Linked DNA regions of Homo sapiens. The protein of the gene in region 2 interacts with the protein of the main gene of each other region in a pairwise test. Each region holds a gene or a part of one and is shown on either strand. Other genes may lie near its edges.

Region 1 (6,827 bases), on a different chromosome or scaffold from region 2:
TGGAGGAGGGGGCTCAGGGAAACTCTGTCTCCTCTGTGGCACCTTTACCTAGTAACAGTGGGGCTGAGGGAGGAGGAGGCGGTCAGGTAGGTGGATGGTTCCTCTTCCCTTTCCTTTTTAGGCTCTTTTGTGTAGAGTGGGGCCAAAGCAGCCCTGATTAAGGCCCATAACGTTAAAGATGTTACTGGGACCCGTTTCCCTTGTGCATGATGTTATTTAAGATTTCCCCTCACTTGCTCCCAGAGTTCTTGGTCTAACGTGCCTTCTTCTGGGAACCATGGGTTATTGAAAACAACAGTTTGCATTAGGCCCCTTAACTGAGCCTCCGAGACCCAGGCTCTGCTAGCTTTAAGCAGCTGTTTCAATACTTACATATAGTGTTGCTGTTGAGCTGATAACTGTTGTCCCATGATGAAACCCTAGGTTGAAAATTCCCTCAAACTTGGAAATCCTGAGTGGGCACCAATTACTTACTTCCCGCACAGTCTCTTCACCTCATTTTTGGGGGTTCCATCGTGATCTGTTGCAGCATTCCTCACACAGGGCACCAGTTGCTGGGTCTGTCCCACAGACCCTGGCTGGACGATGGATGAAACGAGTACTCAGACGCAGATATGCAGTGTAAGAGCAGCTAGGGGACTGCTTGGCACTAGCGGCCAAAGAGTGAGCAGGCAAACAGCTGGAGCTGCTTGCTTTTATTCAGTATAGACATAATGCTGAAAGCCTGGAGCAAAAACAATCTGTGGGTAATTAACATTATTGTTCCCCTTTCAGGGAACGGGTCACGCATGTGGATGATCAAAGGTCAGCTCCTGGTCAATGTAAGTAAACAAGCCTATTTACGATAAATTCCCCTATGCTTCCTGGTACCTACTCCTTGCCCTCTGCCTCAGGGTCAGAAAACAGCTGCCTTCAGCTTATTCTCCCTGGAGGCTATGCAGAGGCTTCCGACTTTTCAGAAGGTCTGCTCCTTTCCCTATAGTTTCTCCCACCACTCTGACTGATCTATAGGAATCATTCCTTGGCCAGGCTAGCCCTGATGTCCTCCCCCACTTTTTTTCTTTTTAAGAGTTGGCGGTTTCACTCTGTTGCCCTGGCTGTAGTCTCGTGGTGTGATCATAACCTTCAACTCCTGGGCTGAAGTGATCCTCCTGCCTCAGCCTCCCAAGTATGTAGGGCTACAGGTGCACACCATCATACCTGGCTAACGTTCAAACGTCTAGGCTCAAATTATCCGCTTCAGTCTCCCAAAGTGCTGGGATTACAGGTGTGAGCCACTGCACCTGACATGTCCTCTCTGGATAGAGTGGACACTTGCTACCATCAGACCAGCAATGAAAAGCTGTCAACTCTTTGTCACTCAGATCAACTTTGATTAAAAGAATTATTACCAGCCAAGCACAGTGGCTCATGCCTGTAATTCCAGCACTTTCAGAGGCCAAGGTGAGAGGACTGCTTGAGCCTACGAGTTAGAGACCAGCCTGGGCAACAGAGTGAGACCCCTGTCTCCAAAAAAATAAATAATGAAAAAGAATTATTTCCAAATAATTTGGGAATACAATAAGTATTATTCTGTGTCTGGCACAGCATTTGACAAGACCCACAGAGCTAGGCTTTGGTAGACAAGAGTTCACCAACAGTTAAATTCTTTATAAAGATGAAAACACCTCCTGTTCATTGACTTTTTACTATGTGGAGGTTTTTTGCTACTTTTTCATACATAGTCTTTCTTTTAATGTAATCTTCTTGACAGTCCTATGAAGGTCTCATTATTATCCACCCCTGTTTTGCAGATGAGAAGACTGGTTTCAGAAAAGTTGAGTGCTGAAGACTACAAAGCTGTTTGTAAGTTATCAAGCTAGGATTTGATCCCAGGTCTGCCTGATAAATCCTGGACTCTTAACCATGACATAGGAGTGCCCTCTTGACTCCTATGATGGCATAAAGAATTGTATCAGAACGGGTAATCTGGCATTAAAACCCCTGTGCCACAACCGTTAGTCTAATTTTTCTCTACAGCACCATCTGAAGATGCAACAAGGATAGGAACCACTGATAAGGTAGAACATTTTATTGTCTGGCAGAGTAGAAGATGGAAGTTCCTCCCCACTAGCCTTTCCACCTTGTAATGGATTTGAACCCTTGAAGCTTAGTGGGCAGTTTTGAGAATTACATGGGCTACAGGTGAAAACTTACACATTATAACCTTAATTTAACAGCCAGTTAAGACTTGAGTGTGGTAAAAGATTCATTTATTTATTCAATCAACAAACAATGTGGCACTACATACTATATTAAAATAAAAACATACGAATAAAATATAGGCACAAAAATAGAGGATATTGCGACTATCCTTAAAGATACACATTTTAGGAAGAATGATGAGACTTTTGGGCATGCTTTCAAGCCAAAGGGCTATCATAAATGAAAAGGAAGATTGTTTGGGTCCTTGTCTGGCATCTTAAGTAGCTGTGTGATCTCGGAAGTCTCGGGCTTTAGCTTCCTCACCCACAGTGAAAATTAAAAAGAAAAATTGGGCCGGGCGCGGTGGCTCACGCCTGTAATTCCAGCACTTTGGGAGGCCGAGGCGGGCGGATCACGAGGTCAGAAGATCAAGACCATCCTGGCTAACACGGTGAAACCCCTTCTCTACTAAAAATAAAAATAAAAAAATTAGCCAGGCGTGGTGGCGGGCGCCTGTAATCCCAGCTACTCGGGAGGCTGAGGCAGGAGAATGGCGTGAACCCGGCAGGCAGAGCTTGCAGTGAGCGGAGATCGCGCCATTGTACTCCAGCCTGGGCAACAGAGCGAGACTCCATCTCAAAAAATAAAAATTAAAAAAAGAAAAGAAAAATTGAAAAAAGAAGCAAAACCGAAATCTTGATTTAGAGAAGTAGACTCTTTTTGAAGTAGAAAGCAAAACAAATTTTGGAGGACCAAATTTCTGTGAAATAGTTTTGTCTTTAGCAGTCGTTTGTTTCAGTTATAACGGTTATAAATGGCACTTCATTTGATTTCTTTAAACATTTTACTTGGCCTGCTGTTTAATCAGACATGGAAGCCAGGTATGTAGTACTGTGGTAACTCACGGTGCTGTAACTTCCTAGATTAAAGGGCCGTGGCAGTTAAAACGAAACAAAACAAAAAAATTTCTTGAATTCTGCACTGTCAGTATTCAAACTAGTTTCAGAATCTAATGGACACACTCTGCCAAACCACCGATTAGCCATTTGAGGAGAGATGAAAGATGCCTATTTTTGGAGTGAATTCTCATAGGGTTATTTTCGTCTTACGAAATGGTGTAGCGGACTGCCCTTTTTCTCCTTTACTAAGTCACCTCAGCCAAAGCGGAAAACAAAGAAAAAAACCAAACCAAACCAAAAAAACGACAAAATAGACCGTACGCAAATAGAAAAAAAAAAAACAAAACCCAAAACACCTCCTTTAAGCGTCGGTTGGGCTCTATGTTAGCTTTGACTCTCCGTGCTCCCTGCTTTGCTGGGAACACGGAGATCCATCGCTCCGTTAGGCGTTCCCTTTAGTTTTCTAAGTGTGGGAGCCTGGGGCGACGTCCACCACGGAAGGTCTCTCCCGGAAACGGTTTTCCGCCCCGCCACGCCGCCCGCCTACGTCGACCACTGGCCCGCTGCTGGTCGGAAGGCGGCGCGCAGTCCATCCCCCGCCGGGCAACGCCCGTCGCTGTGGCGTCACTGGGAGTTGTAGTTTCACTGGGCTCAGCGGTGCCTGCGCTTTAGCGCAGACGCGCGGGTGAGATCCTCACTTCCCACAGGACCTCGGGACGGGGGCGGGGCTCCGACAGAGGCGGCGATTGTGGCGGCCCATTTGTAAATGCTGCGGAGATTGAGGTGTCGGTTCGTGCTGCTGAGCTGCCCAGGCTTCACGGAGCGGTAATTTGTGGGCGAAAAGAGCGGAGGAGCTCTTTGTCCGCCGCCCTGCGCCGGAGATGGACGGCGGTGGGCGGGCAGGACTCTGCTCGGACCTCGGGGTTGGCTCGGCGGGGCGAGGAGGGAGCGGGGCGCCGGGACGCGCTCAGGCCCACGGGCGCGCTGAGGCCCACGGCAGTTCAGTGGCTTCGTTCATTCGCGCTGCTTTGTTCTTCGCAGAGCTGGGGAAGCCGGCCTCTCTGGGGTGTCTGTCTCTCTGACCTGGCTGTGGCGGAACTTGAGTTCCTGTGGGCAGCGCGGCAGCCGCAGTCCGCTGGAGCAGGGTGGTGAAGTAGCGTTGCTGGCTGTCCTAAGGGCCGGTCTTGCCCCAGCTTTGTCAAGGGCTTCTCTCTTGAAGCTTCGTGTGGATTCATGGCTTTCAAGAACGTGTTGTATTTTAGGGGACTGCTAAATCACTTCCCAGACCAACTAGTTACTTCTCACGGTCTAAGAGTGGCTTTGAATTTGCTGTTTGTATCCACTCTCCTCCCTCACCGTGCAGAGAATTTATCTTTTTTTCAATACTGCTTTAAAGAATGTTTACATAGCACTTTCTGGAGATTTCAAGGCTGTCAGTTTGTTACATTTTTTAAAAGTTTTATTGAGGTATAATTGCTATACAATAAAAATGGCACATGTTTAAATGCATTCCATTTGATGAGTTTGACATACACGTGCACCCGTGTCCTTCAGATTTTGATATCTGTAAAGTCTGAGTCCACATACTAATCCTATCTCGGCATATATATTATCAATGCTCCCTTTACCAAGACCTCAGTATCAATAATAAGTAGCAGGTTCTGGTGACGCTTTTTTTATACTTCATGCTGACATTAAATATATTTTTAGAATCGCGGTCATGAAATTGAAGGTATAGAAGGTGTGTTTGGTGGGGAGTTGGAGGAGGAGATGCAAAAGTCTGGCTGCTGCATCCCAAGACTGCTTGCACTTGTCAGTCTAGTAGGGAATTTTTCTAGTTTTCCATATTATGAAATGACCTTGTAGTTTGTCTCCCTTCTGAATTTGGATTTCGAAAGATTTTCTGCTAAGGTCATTGAAATTAAGCAAAGTTACGTGGTTGATTTTGAAAAAAAAAAAGTCATTACTTTTTTAGATTGGTTTCCTACTGAAAAACAATTTGCTTAGAAAAAGTTTTTACAAATTATTCAGGAATAACAGATATCCAGTAAAGTGCGCTAATCTTAAGTGTACAGCCTAAGTGTATCCACCCCCTGTATTAACCTTCCCAGTTGTTGAAGTCAAAAATTTGGAGATGAATCTCTTAAGTTTAACGTTTTATTTGGGAAGAAAGAATGGCGGTTCCAGGCGTACAGACCAGGTGGTCTTCAGTATGTCCAAAGAACAAAGAGAAAGCTGGAGGTTTTATAAAAAAGAGAATTGTTATATCTGTCGCTCTTCGAGAAAGTTCATTGGTTCTCCTAAGGTTCTGGGGAGGCAGCAGGTCCTACCGAGTGGGCCATGGTGGAGGGCAAAATTAGTCCTACAATTGCAGCAAGTTACCTCAGCATCTATAGATCAAATTGGTCTCGGGTTACAACCGGCAGTTTCAGCATACTGACTTATAGAGAATTCCATTCTTGGAGCAAAGTTGTGTGTCCTGAGTGCCTTTCCCTCTTGACTTCTTGATTGTTTAGTTGGCTATAAGAATGACTCAATTTGTATGATCAACTTTCACACAGACAGGACAACTCCCATTTTCCTGGATAACGACCAATATGCCATTTATAACTATGGGTTTATTTTGCCTGTTCTTCAGCTTCATATACATGGAAACATGGGCCAGGTGCGGTGGCTCATGCCTGTAATCCCAGCATTTTGGGAGGCTAAGCCAGGTGGATCACTTGAGGTCAGGAGTTTGAGAACAACCTGACTAACATAGTGAAACCCCGTCTCTACTAAAAATACAAAAAAAAAAAAAAGCCAGGTATGGTGGTGCATGCTTGTAGTCCCAGCTACTCTGGAGGCTGAGGTGGGTGAATCGCTTGAACCCGGGAGGCTGAGGTTGCAGTGAGCCAAGATCACACCACTGCACTCTAGCCTGGGCAACAGAGTGAGACTCCATCTCAAAAAAAAAAAAAAAAAAAGGAATCATATTTGTCTGATGTTCACACATCATTATTTATTTTTGTTACTGCCTGTGGCAGCAATTTTTGTTTTTTTAAATGCCTGAATAGCTGTGGTTCTCAAAGTGTGATACAGTGAGAAAATGTACATCACATTGGCATTTTTGTTTTTGGTTATTAAATGGTTGGCAGGCAATCATCTTGTTCCAAGAAAATCTTCAGTTGCAATTAATGGTACAGTAAGCCTTTATACAACTCTTCTACAACTCAACCAGGGAGCGATGGCAAAAACACAGTATCATTATGTTCACTGTCTTCTATGTCTTTTAACAGTTCTATAAACTGGCAGTTGATAGCATTTGTACATACTGAACAATTGTAACAACTATATTCATGATACTATTCGTGGATTATGCTTCAGAAAACCAAACACAAGAATTTTCAATGTGTATTATACAGGGGAATGAATCAGCGAGGGAAACAGCAGTCTCTTGTTGTAAAATCCCATTAAATTCAGATTTTTTGCCTTATAGAATGACACCATCTGTCATGATAGAAACTGATTTTTAGGCTGGGCGCAGTGACTCACACCTGTAATACCAGCACTTTGGGAGGCCGAAGCAGGAGGATGGCTTGAGCCTAGGAGTTCAAGATCAGCCTGGGCAACATAGGGACACCCTGTTTCTACAAAAAAATTAAAAAATAAAAAATAAGCTGGGCATGGTGACACATACCTGTAGGCCCAGCTACTCTGGAGGCTGAGATGGGAGGATCACCTAAGCACTGGAGGTTGAAGCTG
Region 2 (7,022 bases):
AAGTGTGTATACACACACTTTAACAAGGCATCAGGGAGTTTAGTTTATTTTTATTTTTATTTATTTTTATTTTTTTTGAGACGGAGTCTTGCTCTGTCACCCAGGCTGGAGTGCAGTGGCGTGATCTCGGCTCACTGCAAGCTCTGCCTCCGGGGTTCACGCCATTCTCCTGCCTCAGCCTCCCGAGTAGCTGGGACAACAGGCGCCCGCCACCACGCCAGGCTAATTTTGTGTGTGTGTATTTTTAGTAGAGACGGGGTTTCACTGTGCTAGCCAGGATGGCCTCCATCTCCTGACCTTGTGATCCGCCCTCCCAAAGTGCTGGGATTACAGGCGTGAGCCACCACGCCTGGCTGGTTTAGTTTATTTTTGAACTAATGACACAGAGACTATAGCTTTAAGGTTTTTTGAGTCAATCAGTAAATTTAAAACAAATTTTGTTCAGTTTGGACTTGTAGTTCATGGAAATCATCTGCTAACTACCAAATGCTTCCTCACTTTAAAAGAAAATATACCAAAGAAGAAAAAATAAACAAGTCCAAACATCTGCCACCTACCAGCAGTTTAGTTTGTTCTACTGAAAAGGCAAAAGGGATAGAGAAAAAATTTTACATCACGTTATTTTCCCTCTTCCAAAACCAAAATAAATAAATAAATAAATAACTTGTCTAAATTGAATGGGGAGCTGACACACTCCAAAAAACAGCTTAAAAAAAAGTTTACCCTCACGCTGCTTTAATTCTATAAACAGATACCTGAACAAACTGGCAAAACAAGATTCGAGAAGAGAACTCAGTAACTCGCTCTGGTGAAAGCAAACTTAGACATCTGATGAAGCCTTAAAAGAAAAACAACGGGCACACAAAAACAAAACACCTAAAACTTTCCTCAATTACTTGAAATCAAAGTGATTTTTTTTTTTTAATGAGCCCCGGGGTTATCCTGAGCTCCTAGGCTTTAGTAGAAATCCCTAGGAAACCCACCCTACTCATTTTTTCTTGAAGATATAATGCTTTTTATTCACCAAGAAACTGAAAGTCCATTTCTGAATGTTTCTTTCTCGTGTATGTTTCATTGGTTTTATTAAGCCCCGTAAGGGGAGGCTGCACCTAGCCCTCAGACTCCAACCCATCTTATCTTAACTAATCCTATTCAATTCTTACTATAAGTATCTATTAATGATGCATGGTATTAGGTGCCTCAAGAGCAGGGCTACACCAAAACTTAGCTATCAGAAGAATAAACATAAGCCAAAGTAGCTTCAAGGACAATGACATGGGGAAAAATAAAAAGGTAAGAAGCAACTGCCTTCAATTTTATCTACTGCAATATTTTATAGTAAGCTACCCAAAGATTCTTTGTCTATGACACAAAAGGAGGCTGTTAAAAATATTAAAGACTAAACTACTATAGTGTTTTCTCCCTCATGTCATCACAGAGCTCATGTTTATTCCTTTCCAAAACCAAACCTAACATTACAATAAAATTTATTTTCTCAGAATTATTCACATTCCTTGATTACTTTTCTTCTGGATTCTAAGCTTGAGATTTTTTTTTTTAACATATTTATGCTCACAACTCGACCTTTGATGATATGCCTCCTATCCTCCCAATGTATTTCTCTGGCCTGTTAACTGTCAAAGAATCACTTCCCGTCAGGAAAGAACACCTGGCCTGTGACCTATTCAATTCATTGATGGGGTAGGGAATGCTTTACAGGTGACTGGACTACACTTACCAAAAAGACTAAATAGTAATCTATCAGGAAGAGACTTTATCTATAAAATGCCCTTAGCACAATGTCTCCGGTTAAGGTTCCTGAAAAAATGTCTCATAGGTTATATAAACAGAGGTATAAAATGATGATGTTTCATAATTTAAATGCTACTACTGTAAAAGATGATCCTGCAGACCTTACTGAGAGACTTGATCTATTCTAGGCCAGAGCTGCAGGTGTAGCACAACAAAAAGGGACAGGGGGGATTACCTTAACTATCTCAGACCTTTATTTTTATCCTTGAAATTATTTAGTAATTAATTTCTGTAAAAATGAGCAACGAAAGTAACTGAGGTCAAATACATACAAAATTCTTACAAGAAGAATTTGGAGAATAACATCCCCGCAGACAATTAATACCTAACAGAAAAAAATGCCCACAAAGCAGACAAAATTATAATCAATTATTTTAACACTAGCTAAAAGAGAATACGAGAATGATACAAGATATGAACGTATAGCATGTGCCTGAGTTAGAAATAAAAGGAGAGAGTTCAGAAAATAATTCAAAATAAAAGAAAAAATAATTTCAAGAAAGGACTACAAAAGAAAGAACACAAAATGGAAAAAATGCCACATATAATGCCTTATAACAGAGGTCAGCAAACTACAACCCATACACCAAATCTGGCCCATCACCTATTCTCATAAATAAAATTTTACTGGAACACAATCACACTCATTCATTTACATATAGTCTATGGAAACTTTCACAGTATAAAAGCAAAACTGAGTAGCTATGAGAGGGACCATATGGCTACAAAGCCTAAAATATTTACTATCTGGCCATTTACAGAAAGTTTCCAACTCCTGCCTTAAGAAAAATAGAAGATGAAAGGAGAAAAAAAGTTAATAAAAAAAGAAGATATATATTTTTTAATAGGATTCAAAAGAAAGTGACAGTTATCAGGGGTTTGGGGGCAGATAGACATAGTTTAATGGGTACAAGAGCTTATTTAAGATGACAAAAAATGTTCTGGAAATGGACAATGGTGATGGCTGCATAACATGGCGAATGAACTTAATGCCACAAAACTGTACACTTAAAATGGTTAAAATGGTAAATTTTACATATATCGTATTAAAGAAATGGAGCAAGTAACAAATTTAGAAGAGGCAAAGTTTCAATATACATAAAAAGAAAAGAACGAATAATAAAAAGTATAATTTGAGAAACTTTTCTGAAATAAAAGATCTGAAACTATGTAAAGAAAAGCCATACCACATACCTGAGAAAATCTATCTAGAGAAACGAACACCAAGACATACTGTAATAGAATATCTGGTCTTTAATGGAAGAGAAAAAAAAAATCCTTTGCCCATCTAGAAAGAAAAAAAAAAGGCTAAGGGAAGGAAATTCCCATTCTCATCAGACCTTCAACATTAACAGCTCTTAGCAGGTCCTTGAAAAATAAAAGTTTAGGTATGGAAGAAATGATGGCCAGATGCAACATAGAAGAGGTAAGTAAAAACCCTATAGTTCTGAGTTTGAATTGGAAGTATCAATATTAGTTAATGAGGTAGATTAAAAGACACAGATTGTCAGAATGTCTTAAAAAGCAACACTCACATATATACTGTCTATAATAGACACACTTTAAATATAAAGGCAGATTGATTGAAAGTGAATGAATAGAAAAATGCCACACACAGCATAAGAATACTGAAGTGGATATAGTCACATCTGATAAAATGTAGCTAAAATCATAAAGATTTTCATAGGATATGTATGAGAACTTCTATGACTTGGGGCCAGATAAAAGTTCTTATCCAGGTGATGAGTCAGAGAAAGCAATAACCATAAAATAAATATATAAATTAAATTTAAAATTTCTATTCAAATGACTCTCATTAAGAAAATTAATCAGTAATTCATAGCCTGGGAGAAAATATTAGCACATTTATCCCACAAAGCACTAGTATGCAGAATATATAAAGTACTCTTAAACTTAATAATAAAAGATAACCCAACAAAACTGAATAAAACTGAAGTGTGCCCAGTAGAAAAAAAAAGGACAAAACTTCATAAAAGATATATAAGGCCAGGCGTGGTGGGTCACTCCTGTAATCCCAGCACTTTGGGAGACTGAGGTGGATGGAACACCTGAGGTCAGGAGTTCGTGACCAGCCTGGTCAACATGGTGAAACCCCGTCTCTACTAAAAATACAAAAATTAGCTGGGCGTGGTGGTGGGCGCCTGTAATCCCAGCTACTCAGGAGGCTGAGGCAGGAGAATCGCTTGAACCGAGGAGGCAGAGGTTGCAGTGAGCCAAGATCGCACCATTATACGACAGCCTGGGCAACAAGAGCAAAATCAAACAGCAACCATCAAAAATCGTTGATGGGAATGTAAAATGGTACATATACTTTGGGGAAAGGTGTTGGCAGTTTCTTATAAAACCGGACATTTACCTACCCTAAGACCCAGAGATTCTAATACTAGGTATTTGCCCAAGAGAAAGAAAATCCGTGTCCACAAAAAGGATTTTATAAGAATGTTCATTGCGACTTTATTCATAATAGCCAAAACAGGAATCAGCTTAAGGGTCTATCAATTGAAGGGATACACAAACTGCAGCATATTCATATAATGAAATCTACTCAGCAGTAAAAAGAAACTACTGATACACGTTACAAAATCAAAAACATGCTGAGCAAAATAAGTCTTACAGAAAGACTAAATATTGTATGACTGCATTTATATGAAATTCTAAAACAGGCAACTCTTATTCTATAGTGGAAAAAACATCAGAATGGTGGTTGCCTGAGGGAAAAGGGGTAGTGACAAGATTGAGATAAGGGGTATGAGGGAACTTTCTGAAGTTTCTATAAGGAAAGTCATAAGTTCAGTTACACATGTATCTGCATTTGTCAAAACTCAGTGAATGTACACATAAGATTTGCACAGATTTCACACTAAAAGATAAATCTTTACACAAATACTGAACTTAGATAATGATATGCAAATTAGCATATTTGGAGAAGCTGCACAGATGCCTACTATTTACACTCACATGCTTTAATAAAAAGATGATTGACGGATAAAAGAACATATATGTAGGAATACACATGTAATAGAAATTGTACAGTATTATAATTTATGTAAGCATTTCTCTATTGTTGAACAGTTGGCTTGTTACAAATTTTTTGCTATTAGCAATAAATTTACATATCATCTTATAAATGGCTAATTTGTTCTTTAAATCATTTGCTTCCAAAGAGCAGTATCATTGAGGTAAAAGAAAGAGACACTTTGCACATCTTTCTAACTAAAAGTTCTCTGTAAACTTTTTTTTTTAAAGAGGTACCTTCAGAAAAGTGTTAAGGTTTTAAGAAAACACTAAGTAAAAGGTAATCCAGTTTATAATCAACAATTTTAAGTCTGGGAAGATATTTATGAAACTAGGTCCCTTTCTTCTATTACCAAATTAGACCCTTCTTACATCCTCAGACAGGGCATTTGCTTACAAGTAATATAAAGGATCTTGCCAGGCAACGAGAAGTGTAAGATAATTCCCACTCCAAGACTGCAGCATTCTGACTCATTTTATTACCCACTGATAGGCAACAATCTAGAGTATATGGTGACTTCTATTATTAACAGGAACGACATTTGTACAAAGGCGAGAAATGAAAAAAAAAAAAAAAAAAAAAAAAAAAAAAGACAAGTATGGCCATGCTGAAAAATCTAGAGAAGAGTCAGGAATGAGTTGAAAAATCTCTGTACTGTTAAATATGTATTGTAGTAGATACCATTAAAAACAAAACCCAACAAAGAAAACTAGTTTTTATTTTAAAATACCTCACATTACCTATCATAATCCAAGTCGTATATGTTAACTAACAGGAAGCCCATTTCAAGATTTCTTCAATTTCATGTAAATACTATAAAATCTCAGAATTTAATGTTTTACTAAGGCCTTAATAAAAAAAAGACCTCATTTAAACTTTTCTATAAAAAGAGACGTCTTCAGAATATATGGGTCCTTTAACAAAAATATGTCACTACTAGAAACCATCCTAAGGAGGTATCACTCTAAATTGGTACTATTTATAAAACTATTTTGACTGCTATACTTTAAATAATAGAAAACCAGGGTCAAGGACCACATCTGTAGAAGAAAAAGTCTCATATAAATTCTAGTCAACAATAAAAGAATGGCTCATCTTTACAAAGCCATCTTACAAAGGCATCAAAAATAGTATTTTGAGAACCTGTATCAACAATGGAAACAAGATTTTGTCTTAACTGCAGATAGGATGATTCCATTATTAACACAGTCTCTAAACCATATTCTAAACAAATTATCACAATCCAAGATAGGATACAAAGGATTCTTAATTTTACTGCTGGAAAGAATATGATTATTCTTAAGGTAATATAAATAAAGTGATAAGGATTTAAATATGGTTTCATACCACATCTGAGATCTTTAAAAATGATTTCCAAATACCACATGTTCTCACTTAAGTAAGTGGGAGCTAAACCTTGAGTACACATGGACACAGACAAGGGAAGAATACACACTGGGGCTTACTTAAGGGTGGAGGGTAGGGATGGGGGAGGCTGAAAATCAAAAAACTACCTATCTGCTACTATGCTCATTGCCTAGGTGATGAAATAATCTGTACACTAAAGCCCCCAAGATTCACAATTTACCCATGTAACAAACCTGCACATGTAATCCCTGAACCTAAAAGTTGGAAAGAAAAAAAAATTGTTTCATTTCATTCTATAGAACTGTAAACTCATTTTTAAAAATAAATAAAAGCATTAGTTAACATCGTCCCTTCCAACCTTTGCTTGGCTAGCTTGGGCTCACCCTTTTAATTCCTGCTTTAAAAAAATCTACCTACAAAGACTTCCTTAACTGCTCTAAAACAAGGATAAGAGCTCCTATTACATATTGGGACAGACAGTATAATATACGTTTCCTATCACTCTAGATTAGACACTAGATACTTTATAGGTTTTTGTTGTTGTTGTTGTTTATGCTTCCCCACTAGACTGTAAGCTCCATAAGGGTTAAGGGCTGCTTGCCATTACACAATTGTGTCAGTATTTAACACCCGATCATCTAAGCACACTAAAATATTTCTGGAACAAATAAACTGCAGTTTTTAAATTTTTCCATCCAAGGGATTGTACCAATTTCTCATCTTTAAAACAGCTATTCCGTGACAATTCAATTACTATCATAATAACCAGTCAACTGATAATTTTTTTCATTTCTCAGCCTATACA
Region 3 (7,851 bases), on a different chromosome or scaffold from region 2:
ATTCAATCATTTCTATCCTGGCCCTACTGGCCCTAGATGGTGTGAGGCCTGGGCTGTGCAGATAGAATACCTGGGTTTGAATCCCAGCTTCACTGCTTACTGTTGTGACCTTGAGCAAGTTATGCAACCCTTCTAAACCTCAGTTGCCCAATTCATAAAATGGGCATGTGGTACCTTCCTCATTGAGTTGCTAGGAGGATAAAATGGGTAATAAAGATATAAGTACTTAGAACAGTATGGAGTAAGTATTCAATACATGCTAGCTATTAGGAGACCTCAGGGGTTAAACAAGCCAAAAATGACCCTTATGCTAATCTGTCAAGACATGTCAAGACCTCCTGGACTCAGAGCAGGAGAAAAGATGTCCCTTTAAAGCTGATTTGAATTTGAATCTCAAATATGACTGAGGAGTTCAGTTAAGTATTTCTTCCCTTAATTAAGCAATTTAGGTTTTTAATGCTGGCCTTATTTCAAAAAAGGCAGTAGCCTGAGACTATGCTAATTCTGCAGCATTCCCCAGCTGACTTCCCCACTCCCACCTCCAGCTTTTTTTTTTTTTTTTTCTTGAGATGAAGTCTCGCTCTGTAACCCAGGCTAGAGTGCAGTGGTGCGATCTTGGCTCACTACAACCTCCACCTACTGGGCTCAAGCGATTCTCTTATCTCAGCCTCCCAAGTAGCTGGGATTACAGGCATGCACCACCCCACCCAGCTAATTTTTGTATTTTTAGTAAAGACAGGGTTTCACCATGTTGGCCAGGCTGGTCTCAAACTTCTGATCTCAAGTGATCCGGCTGCCTCAGCCTCCCAAACTGCTGGGGTTACACCCAGCCCCACCTCCAGTTTTTAAGGAGAGCTGTGCACATTGATCATCCACACCGACGACTTCACCTGAAGCGTCCACACCTGACACACCCCTGCAGAACCCACATTTTCTCCCTGTAATTCTGGTATCAGGAACTGGAGCCCTAGTATTAGGAAGTCGTATTGGGACGTCAGTGGAAGGCAGAAACCATCAGTCCATTTTGCAGCCTTCTAAGGCCACTCCAACGTGTCCCAGCAGCCTGGAGAATAACAAATTCAAGGGTCTACTTTGATTAACAGATTACAACCAAGTTAGTAGAGAATAAACAAGGTTTGCCCAGAGATAAGGGAGGGGAGACATAAAGTTATTGCCTGTAATCCCAGCACTTTGGGAGACCGAGGTGGGTGGATCACCTGAGGTCAGGAGTTCGAGACCAGCCTGGCCAACATGGCAGAACCCCATCTCTTCTAAAAATATAAAAATTAGCCCGGTGTGGTGGCGCATGTCTATGGTCCCAGCTACTCAGGAGGCTAAGGTGGGAGAATCGCTTGAACCTGGGAGGCGGAAGTTACAGAGATTGCGCCACTGCACTCTAGCCTGGCGACACAGCGAGACTCCGTCTCAGAAAAATAAATACATAAATAAAGTTATCACCTGAAAAAAAAATGTGAGAAGGGAAAAAAATAAAAAGGACTTTCATTTACTTGGCCCTCACTGATTAAGTTTGGCCAACTCTCCTGTTCAGGTGCTGTAATTCAAAGATGAAAAGAAGCTGCGCCCAGTCCGGACGCCAGGCCTTGTGTCCCCACCTAAGAAATCTGCACGGCAGGGATTAACCAGGGGAGAAGGGCCTGGCCGCTGGGCCTTGGCTTCCTCTTAGGCAGAGTTCCAGCCCCTGAGACTTGAGCCGACCGGCCTGAGACGACTCCGGCCGCCGCCACCCTATGCTGGCAAACAGGCCTCTCCCCAGCAGGCTCCAGGGGCAGCCACCTGCGCTCTCCCTGCCCTCCCCTACCCCACTCTCCTAGAGGAAGGATGAAGAACAGCTCCCCCTCCTTACTCTCAGGCACCCACAGATTTCTGAGCTGCCGTCACCACTGACGAGAACCCAGGTCCCCTGGAGGGATCGCTTCTCCTTCTGATTCCATCCTCCCCATCAATGAACACGCAGGAACACCCACGCTCCCGCTCCTCCTACTCCAGGGGGAGACCGAACCCGAGAGCGACATCCGGAGCTGGAAGCCGCTGCAACGGGGGCGCCGGCCTCCCTGCCCCGCAGTCTCCCGCCCTTTCCCAGACACCGGAGGATCCCAGACCAGCCCAGTATTCCAGACGGAGAGGGTGCCCGAGTCCTCCGCAGGGCCCCGCCTCCCTAGGCGCTCGGCGCTGGAGACCTAGGGGAGCGCGCGAGAGAAACGCTGAGCTCCACCCGGCTGGGGCGGAGGCTGAGCACTATACCCGGGACTCGAACCCCGCGCCCTCGTCCCCCAGCTTTAGGCATCCCACGGCGAGCCCTGGCCCAACGCCCCCGCGCCGCGTCTTCCCCCGCACCCCCGCCCGGAGCCGAGTCCCGGGTTGCCAGCGCGCCCATCCCGCCCCCAACAGGTCTCGGGCAGCGGGGAGCGCGCTGCCTGTCCCGCAGGCGCTGGGAGGCGAGCCGGAGCGAAGCCGAGGGCCGGCCGCGCGCGCGGGAGGGGTCGCCGAGGGCTGCGAGCCCGGCCACTTACGCGCGGGCTCTGGGGAACCCCATGGAGAGGAGCACGTCCAGCGCCGATCCATGCTTGATGGTGCCGGGGCGCTGTTGGCGGTTCCTCCGGGGGGTGACTTTGCTGTACAGCTCCTCTCTCGCAGCCATGCCGAGCGGACTGGGGTGGCCGTACTGAGCCATGGCTCAGCGGCCAGCCATCGCCAGGGAAGGAGCCCGAGCCGGATGGTTCGGGAAGGAGGAGGGAGTCGGGCTGGGCCAGGGGAGGGGGCTCGGGGACCCAGAGCCAGGCAGGAGGCGGCGGCAGCGGAGGCGGCGCTCCGAGCTTCCCCAGTGTCGGGACTCTGACGCTTCCTGGTGAGGCCACAGGAGCCAGAACGCCGGCAAGCGGCCGCTGCGGGACCAGCCTCAGCCACTCGGGCCCCCGGCTGCCCCCAGCTCTGCGCCTGCAGTAGCCCTGTCTCCTCCGCCCCCTTCCCTCTCCTCGCCTAGCAGTCCGGGAATTTGCAATGAGTAATTTTTGAATGGATCAAAAAGGAAAAGGAGCCTTGTGGGCTGGCCCTGACTTGCCTGTACCCGGGCCCCGCCCCTCTCTTAAAGCGGCCGCGCTGTCCGAGGCTGCTCCGTGCGGGCAAGAGCTGTAGTCGCGCTACTTGGAGACGGAGGATCCCAACCTTATGGGCTGCTTGTGTGCTTCACCTCCCGAGAGTCACCCCCGGCGCCCCAGCCCTCTCCTTGGCTGGCATACCCGCCCAGCTGGGCCTCAAGACAGGAGATCAACCCATCTCAAGTTTCATGTGATTCTAGATGCGGTTATTAATGGAAATTGGGTGAACTGGTGGATGATACTAATGGACCAGAAGGCCAAGCCGTAAGGCCTAGGTAAAAGGTTTTGCTTCTCAAAGATCCTGCAAAACCCAAAGGGTTGTTAGGACCATCGGAAGTTGAGTTCCCAATCAGCCGGCCAAGTGGCTGCACTAAAGACCTACTGCGCTCTACAAGGTTATGGTCAGTGACTGAATAGTGCCTTCCCGGTGGGGCAGAGGGGTTGGGGAGAAGGACCTCAGGTTCTCAGAGGTGGCAGGACCTGGGAGGGGACAAGAAAAGAGGGACAGGGCAGAAAGAAGAGGGAAGGGAAAAAGAAAGGAGGAAGGAGGAGGAGAAGAAGGAAGGGCTAGGAGGGTAGAGGAAGAAGGAACAGAGAAAACATACTTCCTAATTATAAGAGGTGTTCAAAAGGGAACGGGCTTATTTCATTAGGGAGTGGATATCCTGTCAATAAAAGGATTCAAAGACGGACCGAATCACCACTGCACAATAATAAGTGAATTGTATCATAGGCTGGACAAAACTACTCCCACTGCAAAGATGGTGGAAGCCACAACCATATTGATGCCCCATGCCCCACCTGGTGAATTTGGCTGGGGGATGCTAACCCTCTTTCGTTTGGAAACAAAGTCATTGTCTTCAGTCAGGGACAAGGGTCCCACTTGCTATAATGAAAGAGGCAATGAGTACACCCTAACTGATAGTCTTTTTTGGGTAATAATAATAATAAAACCTAACATTTATTGGGCTCTTGTATGTGCCAGTCATTGTGCTAATCGTAATGAATGAACTCACTGAAGTTTTATACTGACCCTAGGAGTGTGTTTAATCATTATCCCAGTTTTACAGATGAGAAAACTCAGCTCAGAGAGGTTGGGGAAGATCATAGAGCTGGTAAGTGCGTAGCTACAGCACTCGTATCCACTGCGGTGCCTTAGACAAGTTACTTCTCTCTACAGCCTAATTTCCTCATTGGTATGGACCGTGGTAACCTAACCTTGCACACACTGGGTTTTCCAGAAATGTCAGTCCGGGCCTGTCCCTGGTTGGAATATGGGGGAGGGATGGTGACCAGCACCCATGGAGTGGCTTTTTGAGGTTGCTTTATAAGGCCTGTGAAGGTTTTACCAGGGGAAATGATACAGTGTAACTCCCTGAGCCCGGAATTGGTTTCCTAAAGAATAGCCAGTGGTGTTTGGAAGCAGGGAGATAAGACAGCTGGAGCTTAAGCAACAATGTGTATTAATTCTGCCTCCTGCTGTACAAAGGATGAGGGAAAATTAATGCTTCCTGGGTAGTAGCTGCTTCCAGAGCAAAGGGGATATCCTGGAGACCTTGCAGAATGCTCTTCCAGGACATGGAGCAAAAAGACAAGACTGGGCTGGCAACACCATACCTAGTATTAGCCTCCTTGGATGTGTTCGGTAAAACATGCTGGATTTTATCCAGTATTCTGAATTGTTTCCAAATGCCTGGGCTGAAAGTCAAATGATCTGGATCTTAGTCAAGAGATAATAATGTATGTGAAAGCGCTTTGTAAACCATAAAGCGCTACATAAATGATAACTCAAATTTATTGAGTACTTACTATATGCTGGTGTTGTTCTTTGCTTCTTACATATGTGACTCAAACAATTCCTTGACAAGACTATGAACTAGGAACTACTTTACAAATGAAGGTGCTGAGCCAGAGGTCAAGTATCTTGTCCAAGGTCACATGGCTAGTAAATGGCAGAGCCAAGATTTGAACTCTTAACATTTGGCCAAACAACTAGTTAACGACCATTGTTATGATGATAAAAGGACACCAGCCTTTAAGATAGTTTTTTGACTCCATCTATGCCCCTTGACATAGAATTGCTGGATCTCTGTTTCTCCAGAAAAATTGAATTAATTGTCTTTCTCCCTGCCTTTAGGCAAACTGTAAGATAAAGGAAATGATGCATATAAAAATAGTTTTAGGTAGACTGGAAAAAGCACTATGAAAAACTAGGCACCTGAGATGCAAACTGTTTTTGTCTGGGACACTTTTACAGAAATCCCAGCTTGGCTTCCTCACTTGTCTTCAGCTCAGTGCAAACCCCTGTTTTATTTAGGACTCCTGCCATTTGTTCTGCACTGGGTTGGGGGGCTGGCAATTCAGATGCATTGTGCTTTAATTGTGTTGACGTTGAAAAGCTAGGAAAAGCTTCATAAATGTCTACACTGTTCTATTACAAAGAGAGAAGAGGGGGGCTGGGTGCGGTGGCTCACCCCTGTAATCCCAGCACTTTGGGAGGCTGAGGTGGGCGAATCACAAGGTCAAGAGATCGAGACCATCCTGGCCAACAAGGTGAAACCCAATCTCTACTAAAAATACAAAAATTAGCTGGGCATGGTGGCATGTGACTGTAGTCCCAGCCACTCCGGAGGCTAAGGCAGGAGAATCGCTTGAACCTGGAAGGCGGAGGTTGCAGTGAGCTGAGATCATGCCATTGCACTCCAGCCTGGTGACAGAGCAAGACTCCATCTCTAAACAAATAAATAAATTGAGAGAAGAGAAATGACTATTCATCTGGCAGTATATCTTACAGTGGCCAAAAGAAGTGAGATGGGAGTAGGGGTCTTGCACAGGGACAGAGCTGACACATCAGCATGAAGTTCCTCCCTCAGAAGGGAAAGCAAGTTGACATGTCTCCGTGTGTGGTCATGTCAGAATCCACTCTGGACCACAAAGCTCTCTTTGTTCATGTGAGCATGTTTAACCCTCCCTCATTGGCCCCTGCCATATTTTTGCTATGGTACATCCTCTCAGATGGCCAGAGGGAGACCCAGGATGGACCCAGTTGGCTGCACTCACAATTTCTGAAGCATGTCCTATATCTTCTCCTTCTCCTTCACTCTGTCCTTGAGGAACGGTCAAGTAATAACAATAAGAACATGCAGTAGGTCTGTAATTCTAGTACTTTGGGAGGCTAAGGCAGGTGGGCAGATTGCTTGAGCTCAGGAGTTTGAGACCAACCTGGGCAAAATGGTGAACCCCATCTTAATTAAAAATATAAAAATTAGCCCAGCATGGTGGTGTGTGCCTGTAGTCCCAGCTGCTTGGAGGGCTGAGGCAGGAGGATTGCTTGAACTTGGGAGGTCGAGGTTGCAGTGAGCCAAGCTGAGATGGCACCATTGCACTCCAGCCTGAGTGACAAAGTGAGACCCTGTTAAAAAAAACAAACAAGGCCTGGCGCGGTGGCTCATGCCTGTAATCCCAGCACTTCGGGAGACCGAGGCGGGTGCATCGCGAGGTCAGGAGTTCAAGACCAACCTGGCCAAGATGGTGAAACCCTGTCTCTACTAAACATACAAACAAATTAGCCAGGTGTGGTGGCAGGTGCTTGTAATCCCAGCTACTCGGGAGGCTGAGACAGAGAATGGCTTGAACCTGGGAGGCAGAGGCTGCAGTGAGCTGAGGTCACGCCCGCCACTGCACTCCATCCTAGGCAACCGAGCGAGACTCCGTCCCAAAACAAAACAAAACAAAAAAACAAACAAATAACAACAACAACAAAAACAGGCAGTAAAGTCTGCCCACTGTTTCAAATCCTAAAGGCTGGGGTGTTGCCTTGCCAAACAAAGGCAGCTTTGGAACTGCTGGGAATGACTTTCACCCCTAGACTTTAAGGGGATCCTTCGTGGTCAGAAGATTTTGAAACCATGTGCTGCCCCTCTCTGGGCCTCAACTTCCTTGCTTGCCAAATGAGGGGATTAGCTTAGCCTGGGGATCGCTAGGATTTTGTCAAGGGACCCCCAGGAACTTTGAGGGACAGGGGTTGGGGTCACCCAACTGAGGATTAAGAGGGTAGTGTGGTATCCTCTTTTCTTTCATTGTAAGTCTATCAGCTTTATATGTTGGGAGTTTTTTTGTTTTTTGTTTTGTTTGTTTGTTTTGAAACGGAGTCTCTCCCTGTCACCCAGGCTGGAGTGTAGTGTCACGATCTCAGCTCATTGCAATCTCTGCCTCCCGGGTTCAAGCAATTCTCCTGCCTCAGCCTCCCAAGTAGCTGGGATTACAAGCATGTGCCATCACGCCCAGCTAATTATTGCATTTTTAGTAGAGACAGGGTTTCACCATGTTGGCCAGGCTGGTCTCGAACTCCCAACCTCAAGTGATCTGCCCGCCTCAGCCTCCCAAAGTGCTGGGATTATAGGCATGAGCCACAGGGCATGGCCAAGATCTAATTTTTTTAAGTGTTTTTTTCTTTCCTTTTTTTTTCTTTTGTTTTGTTTGTTTTGCTTTGTGTTTTTCAGGGTCTTGCTCTGTCACCCAAGCTGGAGTGCAGTGGTCTCAACTTGGGCTCAAACTATCCTCCCACCTCAACCTCTTGAGTAACTGGGACTACAGGTGTGTCCCACCATGCCCAGCTTCTTTTTTTTTTTTTGGAGAGATGAGGTCTTGCTGTGTTGCCCAGGCTGGTCTTGGACTCCTGGACTCAACTGATTCTCCTGCCTCAACCCTTCAAAGTGCTGGGATTATAGGCATG

What was found. Proteins that work in one complex are often made in the same cells at the same time.
Region 1: the proteins of TNKS (region 2) and CPAP interact in binary tests that used the Homo sapiens proteins (3 or more experiments, as listed by UniProt).
Region 3: the proteins of TNKS (region 2) and UBASH3B interact in binary tests that used the Homo sapiens proteins (3 or more experiments, as listed by UniProt).

What each region holds. Positions count from the first base shown.
Region 1 is NC_000013.11:24,919,842-24,926,668, reverse strand, and holds the start of CPAP (centrosomal P4.1-associated protein), read left to right. Parts: upstream 1-3,807; 5' UTR 3,808-3,908; intron 3,909-6,827. UniProt on the Homo sapiens protein: Plays an important role in cell division and centrosome function by participating in centriole duplication. Inhibits microtubule nucleation from the centrosome. Involved in the regulation of slow processive growth of centriolar microtubules.
Region 2 is NC_000008.11:9,558,912-9,565,933, reverse strand, and holds part of TNKS (poly [ADP-ribose] polymerase tankyrase-1), read right to left. Parts: intron 1-7,022.
Region 3 is NC_000011.10:122,650,891-122,658,741, reverse strand, and holds the start of UBASH3B (ubiquitin-associated and SH3 domain-containing protein B), read right to left. Parts: upstream 3,021-7,851; 5' UTR 2,693-3,020; coding exon 2,532-2,692; intron 1-2,531. UniProt on the Homo sapiens protein: Interferes with CBL-mediated down-regulation and degradation of receptor-type tyrosine kinases. Promotes accumulation of activated target receptors, such as T-cell receptors and EGFR, on the cell surface.